Linked DNA regions of Homo sapiens: all the other regions are linked to region 2. Evidence: fine-mapped expression QTL. A gene starts in region 2. Each other region holds a variant in brackets. All regions are shown on one strand. Distances are from middle to middle.

Evidence for each region. PIP is the estimated chance that this variant, and not a neighbour inherited with it, causes the effect.
Region 1: its variant is the best candidate, but not a certain one, in a credible set for the expression of CHST11 in pancreas (GTEx, PIP 0.56).
Region 3: its variant is the best candidate, but not a certain one, in a credible set for the expression of CHST11 in transverse colon (GTEx, PIP 0.70).

Annotation. Positions count from the first base shown.
Region 1 is chr12:104,541,615-104,545,867 of GRCh38, reverse strand. The region is part of intron 1 of CHST11 (carbohydrate sulfotransferase 11); the gene reads right to left. Among named protein-coding and RNA genes, the nearest start is that of MIR3922, 48 kb to the left of the region's middle. The variant A/G (reference allele first, on the strand shown) is at 2,315.
Region 2 is chr12:104,455,028-104,459,027 of GRCh38, reverse strand. It overlaps CHST11 (carbohydrate sulfotransferase 11), which reads right to left and starts at 2,080. Exons shown (of 3, transcript NM_018413.6): 1 at 1,499-2,080. The coding sequence starts at 1,616. RefSeq lists silencers at 542-601, 762-901, 1,492-1,771, 1,812-1,981, 2,062-2,191 and enhancers at 1,292-1,341, 2,262-2,341, 2,362-2,411.
Region 3 is chr12:104,657,834-104,662,128 of GRCh38, reverse strand. All of the region lies in intron 2 of CHST11 (carbohydrate sulfotransferase 11), which reads right to left. Among named protein-coding and RNA genes, the nearest start is that of MIR3922, 68 kb to the right of the region's middle. The variant A/G (reference allele first, on the strand shown) is at 2,042.

The DNA of each region.
Region 1 (4,253 bases), 87 kb before region 2:
GGTGACAAAGTGAGATGCTGCTTTTAAAAAAAGAGAGACAGAGAGCAAGAGAGAGAGAGACCCTAGAGAGTTCTCCAGCCATCCTCAACCATGTGAGGCTATGGTGAGAAGTTAGCCATCTGCAAACCCAGAAGAGAGCCTCACTAACAACCAACTAGCTGCCACCTGGATCCCAGAGTTTCAGCTTCCAGACTGTGAAAAACAAGTTTCTATTGTTTATAAGAAACGTGCCTTTGTTTGTTACAGCAGCCTGAGCTGACCAAGGCATCATCTTTATGGAACCTGGTACAGTGATAGTAAGATTAAGTAGCTCAATATCATTTGTTCTATATTTAAGCCAAGGCTTCTAGATATTCCATCAATCAGCCAAGCATGTGCCCACCTGAGAGACAAGGACTGTTATTTTCAAAAACCTGACCAAGAACAATTTATTTTCCTCCATCAGAACACAGTCCACATCCATTCTCCTGGACAGGCTCCACAAGGGAAGGCCGAAATGATTGATCAAGTCCATGGGTCACAACACCTGATGTCAATAAAGCCCAACATGTGGCCAGCTCTGCAGAAGCCCTGAGGCAGCTCATGGGGCTGGGCCCTGCCCTCCCCACCCTCAAACGGGCCATTCCCTGATGGTCCTTAAACCTCTGAGTGTGGAGGAACATGACAGAGAATTTAAGAAGGCAATGAATGGATTGATTTTTTTGCTTTTCAATTTGTAACGAAATTCACCTTGGGTCTTTGTCTCCCTTTTACTCTGCAGGGTAATAATAGGGCTGCTCAGACAGGATTTGTGCCTGGCTCCAGGGGATTCTTGCCATCCACAGGGACAAGCCCAACAAAAAGGAATGCTGGCCATTCCTGCATGCCTCCCTCTTCTCAGAACAAGGACGCTGCCCTGTGGACCTAATAAACCCACCCATTTTTCAGCTGCAGGACAAAACAATGGCATACTTCGAAACGACATAATTGCTGTGGCAAGGCCAACATCCACCCTATATAAATTTACTGCAGTAATTCAGAGGGAAGCGAAAATGACTTTAGTATTATTTTGAAAAATCAAAAAGAAAGCACCAAATCCATTATCTCCGGGGTGGGGGGACTGTGACCCCCAGGGCACATCATTGACTGCTCAAATTTCTGATTTCTTTTTTTTTTTTTTTTTAGACCAAGTCTCCCTCTGTCACCCAGGCTGGAGTGCAGTGGCACGATCTCAGCTCACTGCAACCTCCGCCTCCCAGGTTCAACTGATTCTCCTGCATCAGCCTCCTGAGTAGCTGGAATGACAGGTGTCTGCCATGACACCCAGCTAATTTTTGTATTTTTAGTAGAGACACAGTTTCACCATGTTGGCCAGGCTGGTCTCGAACTCCTGGCCTCAGGTGATCCCCCCGCCAAAGTGCTGGGATTACAGGTGTAAGCCACCGTGCCCGGCCCAAATTTCTGATTTCTACAATGGCAAAATACATTTTCTCCCTTATCCTCCTCTCTCCCTATCAATCCACCAATTTTTTAATTTTGACATGGGATACAGTCTCCATAGTTTACATTTTCTCAGTTATCCTTAACTATGCTCATTATTTTCTAAGAAATTAGCCTAGACAGTATAGTTGACCAATACTTTCTTTAGAGCCAGAAGGTTCTCATCAAAAATTCTATGTATGAGCGTTAATTAGTTCTTTTCAGGTCTTTCTTTCTTTCTTTCTTTCTTTCTTTCTTTCTTTCTTTCTTTTTTTTTTTTTTTTAACAGACAGGGTCTCTCTCTGTTGCCCAGGCTGGAGTGCAGTGATTCAACCATAGCTCACTGCAGCCTCAAACTCCTGGGCTCCAGCCATCCTCCCGCCTCAGCCTCCCGAGTAGCCAGGACTACAGGTGTATGCCACCAGGCTCGGCTAATTTTTTAAAATTTTTTGCATAGATGGGGATCTTGCTATGTTGCCCAGGCTAGTCTTGAATTCCTAGGATCCTCCCGCCTTGGCCTCCCGAGTAGCTGGGACTATAGGTGCATACCTCCATGCCCTGCTTCAGATACATCTTTAGCAGTGCCCCAAAAAAGTAAAGGGAAAAATATAATAATCAGCTCCTTGACTGGAAGGAATCTGTTAGTTACCGGGGCAGGGGAGATGGGTAAGGGAAGAGGCAGGAAGAGGTGAAAAAAAGTATACAGTGACTTCAGTGACTGTCGTCAGGTCTCATGATGCCACTGATAGATAAAGTACATCAGGCAGGATCCAACCAAATGCATTAATTTCCCTCAACTTATACTCCTGGACTCCTGTAAGACTCTGAGCCGAGTCCAGGGACGAGAAGGATGGGA[A/G]GGGGTTGGGGGAAAACACCACATTTCTCTGCAAAACAGTTTAAAAGCATAAAAAGCTAGAAGAGACCACTAGTCTCCTCCCCTATCAGGAGCAAATGGAAACACAAAATATGACATGTTGCCAAAAATGCCTGTCCTGCTAATGTAAAAACTAAGCCTGGAAAAATACTGCATGACACAGTTTGGATGGTTTGTCCCCTCCAAATCTCATGTTGAAATGTGACGTCTAATGTTGGGCGTGGGCCTAGGGGGAGGTGTTTGCGTCATGGAGGCTGATACCTCAAGAATGGCTTGGTGCTATCCTCTTGGTAATGAGTGAGTTCTCACACTGTGAGTTTACATGGGATCTGGTTGTTTAAAAGACCCTGGCACCTCCTCCCCCTCTCTCTTGCTCACTCTCTCACCATGTGACACCCCGGCTCCCCTTCACCTTCTGCCATGACTGGAAGCTTCCTGAGGCCTCACCTGAAGCTCAGCAGATGCTGGTGCCATGCTTGTACAGCCTGCAGAACTGTAAGCCAATCAAACTTCTTTCCTCTATAAATTGCCCAGCCTCAGGTATCCCTTTATAGCAACACAAATGGACTAACACACTGGTTGCCACTGTCCCCTGTCAACACCCCTTCGGCATGAGGATGGTTCAGAGATTTAATTTAATCATCAACTACTCTTTAGGGTAACAACCCTTGGGGGTCCTAAAATGTCCTAAATGGGAACTTACATCTCCCTTTACCACCTTCACTGCCACTGGATCTAAAGGGTTAATGTTTTGAAGAGGTAACGAAGCCACATGGTATGAAAACCAAAAGGCACTAAAAGGTTTATACAGTGAAAAATAGGTCTTCCCCACTATCCCCACTCTACCCAGGCAACAACTGTCTACTCATTAGTATTTCTAAAACACACACTATGTGCTGGACACTGGGGCTCCAGGTCCTAGACTATTTTGCATAATCACTGATACCAGTTTCATGTGTGTCTCTCCCAAAATACCCTGTGCTTTTTACATTGTTATGAAATTGGATCACACAGTATTTGTCCTTCTGTGTCTGGCTGATTTCACTTAGTATCATGTCTTCAAGGTTCACCCATGTTGTAGCATGTGTCAAAATTTTCTTTCATTTTAAGCCTGAATGAATAGCTGTCCATTGTATGTTTATATTACATTTGGTTTATCCATTCATCCCTCGATGGACACGTGAGTTGTTTTCACCTTTTGGCTATTGTGAATAATGCCGCTATGAACATAGCTGTACAAATATCCATTCAAGTCCCTGCTTTCAGTTCTTTTGGGTATATATCCAAGAAGTAGAATTCTGGACCACATGATAATTCTACGTTTAATTTTTGGGGGAACTGCCATACCATTTCCCACAGTGGCTAAATTGGATTATTTCTAAAATGTTAGCATATCCTCCACAATGTTCAACACTACATTTAGAAGCATGCCTCACTCTTCTCAATTGAGGAAAGATGAAGTTAGTTGCTTATCATAACTTGGTCCTACACATCCAAGATGTTAAAAATGAAATAGTGGACATGAAAGTTGCTAGAAAGTAAAATGCAGGGGTATTATCATTCAGTTATTACCTCTGGTATAGCAACTGGTAGCTGACAGTCTTTCTGAGACGGAGTCTCGCTCTGTCTCTCAGGCTGGAGTGCAGTGGCGCAATCTCAGCTCACTGCAACCTCCGCCTCCTGGGTTCAAGCAATTTTCCCTGTCTCAGCCTCCCGAGTATCTGGGATTACAGGCACCTGCCTCCGTGCCTAACTAATAACCATCTTTACTCCTAAGACACTTCTTTCCCCTCCAGATTAGCTGACCTGAAGTTATTTGCACTGCCCTTTTTCTCATTTGTTTTCCCAATTTCCCCATGAGATGGAGCAAAGCAAGAGAGTCTCTAAAATTCAGACAAATTCATTCAAAGTAAATATCCTA
Region 2 (4,000 bases):
GGCAGTGTGGCTGCCTTAACAACTGCTCCAGACCGAGTGGGGCAAAGGGGCCGTCTGTCCCTGCGCTGTCAAGGAATCTGCAGCCTGCAGCCCTGCCTGTTTGATGGAAAGAACAGCTTTATTCCTCTGCCATCGACCCAAACGCAGGCTTGATGAATTCGGGACTGCGTCTGTTTAAAGTGTTAGATACACAGTGAAAGGAGAAGGCGGGAGGCAAAAATGAAAAACACCAACCCCACTTCCCTGGAAGGAAATGCGTTTCCACCTCCCTCCTCCTTGCAATTAGAAAAGCAAATTATTGCTGTGACTACGCTGAGAAAGGCAACTCGGAGGCGTAGAAAATGGATTTCTGAGCCAACGTGGCCCGGCAGGGGGCTGCTAAGGGAGGGTAAAAGGGAGCAGGGGAGCCACGGCTTGGCGGGGAGACCCGCGTTACCCGGAAGGCTTCTCGGAACGTTCTACCTGTTGGGCTTCGCAGCCGAGCTGCTCACCCCCGGCCGCCGCGCTCGAGGGCGCCCCTCCCTCTCCAGAACCCAAACTTTCCCTCGCACCCCTAGGAAGCGACGAGCCTCGTCCCTCCCCCAGTCCAGATTTCGGACGTGGAACTTTGCCTGAGCCACAAGGGACCGGAGGAATGGGGTTCATTCCCACGCCGCCCGGGGGATTCCCGTTGCTCGGATCCCAGAAGTGGGGGATGCAAACGGACGGTCAGCCCAGGACCTGGCCAAAGTTTCCTCCAAAACTGCAGTGGTCAAGGCGTGACCCAGGAGCTCGGAGTTTCCAGCTCAGGGCTGGGGGCTGGAGCAGGCCCCGGGGCACCAGCCGCAAGGTCACTGCGGAGCCGGACCCCGGGGGCAAACGGCCGGCGCGTGGTGGAGGGGCAACGCTGGGCACCCGACCACTCTCCACACCTGCTCAGCTCTGCGCGGAGCCCGGGACACGTGGGAGCCCAGTCCCGGGCTCCCAGCCTGCTGCAGGGACTCGCAACCTCGCCGGGGCGTACACCCTTCGCCCCCGGCCCGGCAACCAGGAAGAGGCGGCTCGCCCGGGCGCAGAGCAGCCGGCTCCGGGTAACTCTTTCATCCTCCGACCTCGGCAGCAGCAGGGAGGGAGTTTCGTTCTCCTCAAACCAGCCCCTCACCCCCGGTTGCTTCCCACACCTCTCCGTTTCCCTGCTACCTCGCAGACAGACAGACAAGGGACACAAAGAAAAAAAGAAGAAGAAAAAAAAAAAAAAAAAAACTACCGCCCCTCCTGGTCCCATCCTCCAGCCCGGAGCCGGTAGGAAGAAGAGGGCGAAGCACACCTTCCCTTCTCCTCCCCATCCCGACGCGGTGACCCGGGTAGATCTGGGCAGCCAGGAGCTCTGGGCAGCCAGGAGCCCCGAAGAGGCCGAAGGCGGAGAGGTAGGGTTGGAAGAGGCAGAAATCAGGCGGAGCGAGCTAGAGCGCGAGAGAGAAGAAAATATCCAACAAAACCACGCTAACGCGCCCCCTACCTGGGTGCAACATACTTTGGAAATAGAAGATGACCAGGATAAAGGATCCCAAGCAAGTGGCCAGCACCATCCGGCAGATTCTGTTCATCCTCATCACTTCCAGCAGCGCTGGCTTCATGGCTTTGTCCTGGCTGCGGGGACCGGGGTGTCCGGGAAGCGCGCCCGGGGCGCAGGAGCAGGGACCCCGCCGCGCGGACCGGAGCCCGGGAGGCGCGGGGCAGAGCTGAGCAAGGCTCAGAGGGAGGATCGGAGTCGCTTCGCGGCCGCTCTCGGAGCCCCCAGCCCGGGCAGGGGTGTGGAAGGTGCCGGAGTTGGTCTGGAAGTGCTGAGATGCGTGGACCCGCTGGCTGCGCGCTCCTGCTCCTCCTCCTCGCCGCTCCGCCGCCTCCTCCGATCCCGCCGGCGGCCGCCGCTGCCTGGTCGCGGGCCGGGCGGCTGGGGTGCGAGCGGTGATGGTGGTGCCGCCGCCGCTGCCGCTGCGCTGGCCGCTGTGGCTGTCCGACGGGCCCTCTCCCTTCTCTCCAAAGGCTACTTCATTGCGCTCCAACGATCTATATATTCCGGGGCTGGGTTTTACCAAATGCAACTCGCGGCCCCCGGCGAGGGGAGGGCGCCTGCGGAGAGCCGGGAGGAGGGAGGGACCCTAGCGCCGGGGCGGAGCGTCGCGCTCCCCCCGCCCCTACCCGGGATATGGTCGCGTCCAGCTGTTGCCCGGGGAGTGCGGTGTGCGCGCCGCGCTCCCGCAGGGTCCCAAAAGCCCTCAGTCCCCGGCCGGGCTCGGCCGCCGTCTGGAGGTTGTGTCAGCGTTTCCATGACAAAACCCGGAGGAAAAAAAGACGAAGAAAATCGCCTCGGTGCTGCCACCCACCCCCGCCAGCGTTTGGAGAGGGAAGTGGCAAGCAGCGGGCTGGGTCTCGGAGGGAAGAATTAAGGGTTAGGGGGTTTCTGGTGGCTGGCAATTATTTAAAATCCCTGGGCGACGTAGCGGGGAAGTTGCCCCAAACCCCCAGGGAGCGAGTGCCCATTTTCCGACGCTCAGAACTGGGCGGTTTCGTTTTTCTTTCAAAGGACAGCCCAGCTTGGGAGTCGGGGTTAAAGAGGGCTGACTTAAAGTCAGGGTTAAGGAAACTGCACGACCCTCGGGTCAGGCGACAGCTGAGCTTTCCCGGGGACTTATACAGACAGAATCTCTGACACCCACCATCACCACCATTCCTCAAGGCAAAAGGGATCTGTGGGTTGCAAAACTCTGCTACCCCAAAGGGTAGAGCATCCTCCAAATTATTCAAAATTAACAGCAGTCTTAGCTGGGAGGGGGTGAGAAAATGCCCCTAGGAAGCCACCTCAACCAAGTCCAGAAAACTGCTGGAAAAGCCAAGCCAGCCATAGCACTGGCAGGTACATGGAAAGATGGTGCTGCTTTCTTGTATTGTGTAGAATGACTTCCAGTTTCCAATTCCATGCATTTAGGCTGTTTCACAATCAATAAAGTGGACACAGCCAATAGTGTAGGGATCACTCGTATGTCAGGGAAAAAAAAAATGTTAGTTAGACTAACCTTTGTGCCTTATCAAGTCATTACTAATTCAATTAAAAATGAAATAAGATACTGTGTCTTTCAATGCCTCTCACAAAATAGGCATTTGATAAATTCTTATTGAATCTGAATGTAATGGGCCTTATCCTCCCCTCGATAGACAGAGACACAACTTGCAGTTAGACACATGCAACAAAAACCACCTGGGCAACCTCAGTTCCCTTCCCCCAGAGTTCTCCTCCAGCAGTTGCATGGTGGGGAAAGTAACAAACTCAGCAGCCTTGCCTTTGATTACAGAAGACAATCAAAGCACAATATTTATGTAGCCGGTGTGCGCTGTATTAATTTGGACTTACCTGTGAATAAGTTGCTTGCTCAAGGAAGCCAGGCTGAACAAGCTTCAGACAGAGTCGTTCTCCAGTGATTCTTCTGCTCTGGTGATAGGAGATCAGGAATGGGAGTTGCACTGCACCCTCCCCACCTCCCCACCATCATCACTAAGAAAGGGGATTCCTTGCAGAGGGCATGGCTTAGATGGGCATTTGCACAAAGCCTTTGCCTGGAATATAAGTCTCTCATTTAACACTTGGCTTTACAGAGCCAGGGAGGGGAAGGGATTTACTCCCAGGTCACCCAAGTGACCTCTCACCTCATAGGCCAAAGACTTCAGTTACCTGCCCCAAAGCCTGGACATGCACAAGGCAGTTTGGGAAGTCACAGGGTCAAGGAAGAGATCAGAAGTCCAATTCCCTGTGAGTCACAGAGATCATGGAGTTGGCCCACATGGTGGGGGAGGATGGTGAATCATGCCCAACATCCATTCTTGCATTCCCACAATCAGGAACCTGCCCAAACACAGTGAGGATTAAGGCTGTGACACATAAGCTACCACCTCTCCCAAGAAGTCTTTGCTGTTTTCTCACCTGAAATTGCAACTTTCCTCCTCTGCGCTGTGAGCACTAGGT
Region 3 (4,295 bases), 200 kb before region 2:
TATGTGCCAGGTGCCTTGTTACCAACACGTATCCTTGACTTTAATCTTGTGGCCATCAGAGTTTATATTTCTATTAAAAATGATTTCCTGCTCTCCTTCACCTCCACCCAGATGGAGCTCACTGATTCATCTCAGACTGAGAAACGAGGCTCAGGATGTTTAATTAAAAGTAACATCTTCTTTTTGCCAAGATTCCATGTTCTAATCCTGACACAAATAGAAAGAACAGGTGTTTTCTGAAAAGCAAGGAGGTGGAAACACTAGTCATCTCCAACTTCCAGAATACTTTATCCAAATTTTGTTGTGGAAGAGACCCCATCACTGGGTATGGTTAAACTGGGGTGAAAATCATGTGGCTGCTAGGAAACCAGGCATCCCGGGTCCTGGTCAAAGACAGGAGCACCTTCACCACTACTGCTGTGTATCAGGAGGCAGAGGAGAGTGAGACAGAAAAACTAGCACTCAGGACCCAGGAGAGAAGGGGCTCTCTTGCTTCCTAAATGTCTACCACATGCTAAGCGCTGTTTGCTGCTTTTTAAAATGTGCAGCGATGGTGCCACTGCACTCTGTTGCCCAGGCTGGAGTTCAGCAGCGCCATCATAGCTCACTCAAAGCCCACCTCAACCTCCCAAGCTAAGTGATCTTCTCACCTCGGCCTCCCAAGCTGCTGGGACTACAGGTGCATACCACCACATCCAGCTAATTTTTTGTATTATTATTATTAGTAGTAGTAGTAGTAGTAGAGATGGGGTATTACCATATTGCCCAGGCTGGTCTTGAACTCCTGGGCTTAAGGAGGTGGAAACACTAGTAATCTCCAGCGATCTACCCGCCTCGCCCTTCCAAAGTGCTAGGATTACAGGTGTGAGCCACTGTGCCTGGCCTGTTTGCTGCTTTTTACATATTGTCTCATTTAACCCCACTGACAAATGAGGCAAGAGCTACTCCTTCCGTTTTTATGGATGAGGAAACTGAGTCTCGGAGAAGTTGTCACTTGCTCAGAGACACAGAACTCAGGCGAAGCTATGTCAGGATTTGGGCACAGGTGAATCGCTCTTCTCATAGATTCAGCTACATCACCCTTCCCAGGCTCATGGCAGTCTGGAAGTGGACAGAGTGGATCGAGCTGAGGATGTGGTCATCTAGGCTCATTTCTCTTGCATGCTGAGCCCTCAATAGCAGCAGAGATGTCACAGAAGGATGAGAACCACAGAAACCCCAAATGTAAGTAGTTTAGACTAAGACCCCTTTGAACTCCAGCATCCTTTAACTATAACTCCTTCCCTGTATTGCTCCACCCAGTGGCCTCAAATCTTGGGATTGATCAAGATTGCAGGTGGAGCTAGACTCAGTTTTCATAAATGTAAGGTCAAAGAGGAATGGCAGATACGCACCCCTTTACAAGAGCTGGGTTTCGGATTTTCTTCTGAGAAGAAGGGGGTGTGAAAAAGGGCCTGGGATAGAAGGAGTACACTTCTATCTTCACAAGGCTCCTGTGAGCAGCCAAGTCCAGGAGAGGACCTCAGCCGGGATGGAAATTTCCTTCGGGTCTTTCTCTCCTGCTGTTTGCACACAGTGTTCTCTTTCACGGGCCTCCTCTGGCCTATGAAATGAGCTTTCATGTCCTCCATACAAAGTTGGTTTCTCTAATGTGCTGAAAATAGAAGAAACTACCATAGCCATGTTTTCCCTTGGGCTGAAGAGCAAGACGGTGGCTCTGCCATCAAACCCAGCCATTCAGCTGGGGGCCCACCTGCGCCAAGCCCGTGGGCAATGGCAATGCCGCAGAGACCCAGTGAGCTAAAAACCCAGCCTGTAGCCCTTTCCCTGAGCTTTGGGAACGAAAGACTTTCCTCTGGTCCTGGCGTGGTACCCAGGAGACCTTTCTGGGGCTAAGAACAGAGCATCTGTACAATCAAAACAGCATCAACAAGTATTTTCTGAGCATCTACTGTAAAGCCAGGATCTGGGCTAGGTGCTGGGATACAGCGATAAGCAAAACAGATGTGGTCCCTGGAGCGTCTCATTTCTAGTCTAGCCC[A/G]GTACAGTCCAATAGAAGTATAATGTGAGCTACATATTTAATTTTAAGCTTTCCAATAGCCACAATTTTAAGAAGTAAAAGAATGAAATTAATTCGTTTTCTTTTAGAGACAGGGTCTCACTCTGTTGCCCAGGCTGGAGTGCGGCAGTGCCATCATAGCTCACTGTAACCTCAAACTCTTGGGCTCAAGCAATCCTCCCACCTCAGCCTCCCTAGTAGCTAGGACTACAGGGGCACGCCACCATACCCAGCTAATTTTTAAAAATTATTTGTAGAGATGGTGGGGGCGGGGGGGGGTCTCACTATGTTGCCCAGGCTGGTCTCGAACTTCTGGCCTCAAGCAATCCTTCTGCCTTGGCCTCCCAAAGCACTGGAATTACAGGCATGAACCACTGTGCCTGGCCATAATTAATGTTAATAATATATCTTTATTTAACCCAACATACCTAAAACATTTTCATTTCAACATAAAATCAATATAAAAATTATTCATGAGATCATTTACATTTTTTGGTACTTATTCTTCAAAATATGGTATGTATTTAACCCTTACAGCATGTCTCAATTCACACTCGCCACATTTCAAGTGCTCAGCAGCCATTTGGAGCTCAGGGCTACCACCCTGAGCAGCACAGCTCTGCACTGTGGGGATGGAGGATCGGGGCAGTGATGGCTCTTGGAGATCCCCGGAAGCTCTTAGAGATACGGAGAAGTAATATTATCACCAACGATCATATGTCTTGAGCAATTATCATGTGCCAGCCCCTCAAGGAATCCTCCCTAAACAACCCTAAGAGACTGTCACCCCACTTTGCAGATGAGGAAAGTGAGGCACAGAGAGGCTACATCACTTGCCCAAAGTCACACAGCTAGTCAATGCAGAGTCTGTGATGCAGAACACAGAGCTGTGCTCTTATCCATGGCATCATCCCAGTTCTTGAGCACGGATCCAGACACATCACATGTTAGAACCCATTCCTCTGAGCCCCTCCAATGGTGCTCTTTTTTGATGGAGATCAAGTGAGAGAACGTTTTGGGAGCCCTTGGTAAGATGTGAAGGGCTTCAAGTGGAATATTACGCCTATTAAGTGAAGTAGAAGTGGTTTATAAAGTATCCTCTGCAGCCAGACTGCCTGGGTTCAAATCCCAGCTTCACCACTTACTAGCAGCGTGCCCTTGGGCAAGTTACTAAATCTCTCTGTGCCTCAGTTCCCTTGTTTATACAATGAGAACGGCAATAGAGCCTATTTCAAGGGTCATCATGAGGATTACATGAGTTAATAAAAATAAAATGCCTAGCACTTTGCTTGGCACCTAAGAAGCAACTACTAAGGAGTAGTTATCATTATTATGGAGCGAACAGGGTACAGATGCGGGGGTTATTGGATGAGAGAGTCTGGGAGGAGGAGAATGGAAGCAGAAGGTAGGAGAAAAGCCAATCATCAAGGCGCTAGGAAGTGCCAGAGTTACGGTCCCCAGGGCTACCTCCCCCTCTCCAGATAAACACCATGGAATGTAAGGTACACGCTGTCATGAATTAACTGTGTCTCTCCAAAATGCACATGCTGAGGTACTAACCCCCAGTCGTTCAGACAGTACCCTTATTTGGAGATAGTGTCTGCACAGAGGTGATCAAGTGAAAATGAGGTCCTTAGGGTGGGGTCCCAATCTAATGTGTCTGGTATCATGACAAGAGGGGGAAATTTGCACAGAGACACAAGGAGACTGCTGTGTGAACATGAAGGTGCATCTACCAGCCAAGGAGACAGGCCTGGGACAGCCCCTTCTCTCATGGCCTGAGAAGAAACCAACCCTGACCACACCTTGATCTTAGACTCCCAGCCTCCAGAAGTGTGAGAAAATAAATTGCTATTTAAGTCCCTCGGCCTCTGGTACTTTGTCATGGCAATGATTGCAGACGCTCATCCTGCCTCCTCTCCTCACCAAGAGGCACTGCAGGTTGGGGGCGGCATAGGGGGCTCTAAGCCAGCCCCCGCCCCAGTCCACACAGCATGCTTGTAAAACTCTGAGTATCCTTGGCTGGCTGGCCTCGGCGGGTCTGTTGCAGTGGAAAACTACCCAGGAAGGTGGGCTGCGTCCCTGAACACTGCTCACTCTGTTTCCCCTGCTACCTTCAAAATCCCCCTCCGTCAACTGAAGGGGAAATAAAGCGTGTCTTTATTCGGGTCCAGGCTGCCTTGGACACCCTGCTCCAGCTTGAGCCAAGGCAGACACAGATGCTTATTGAGCAAGG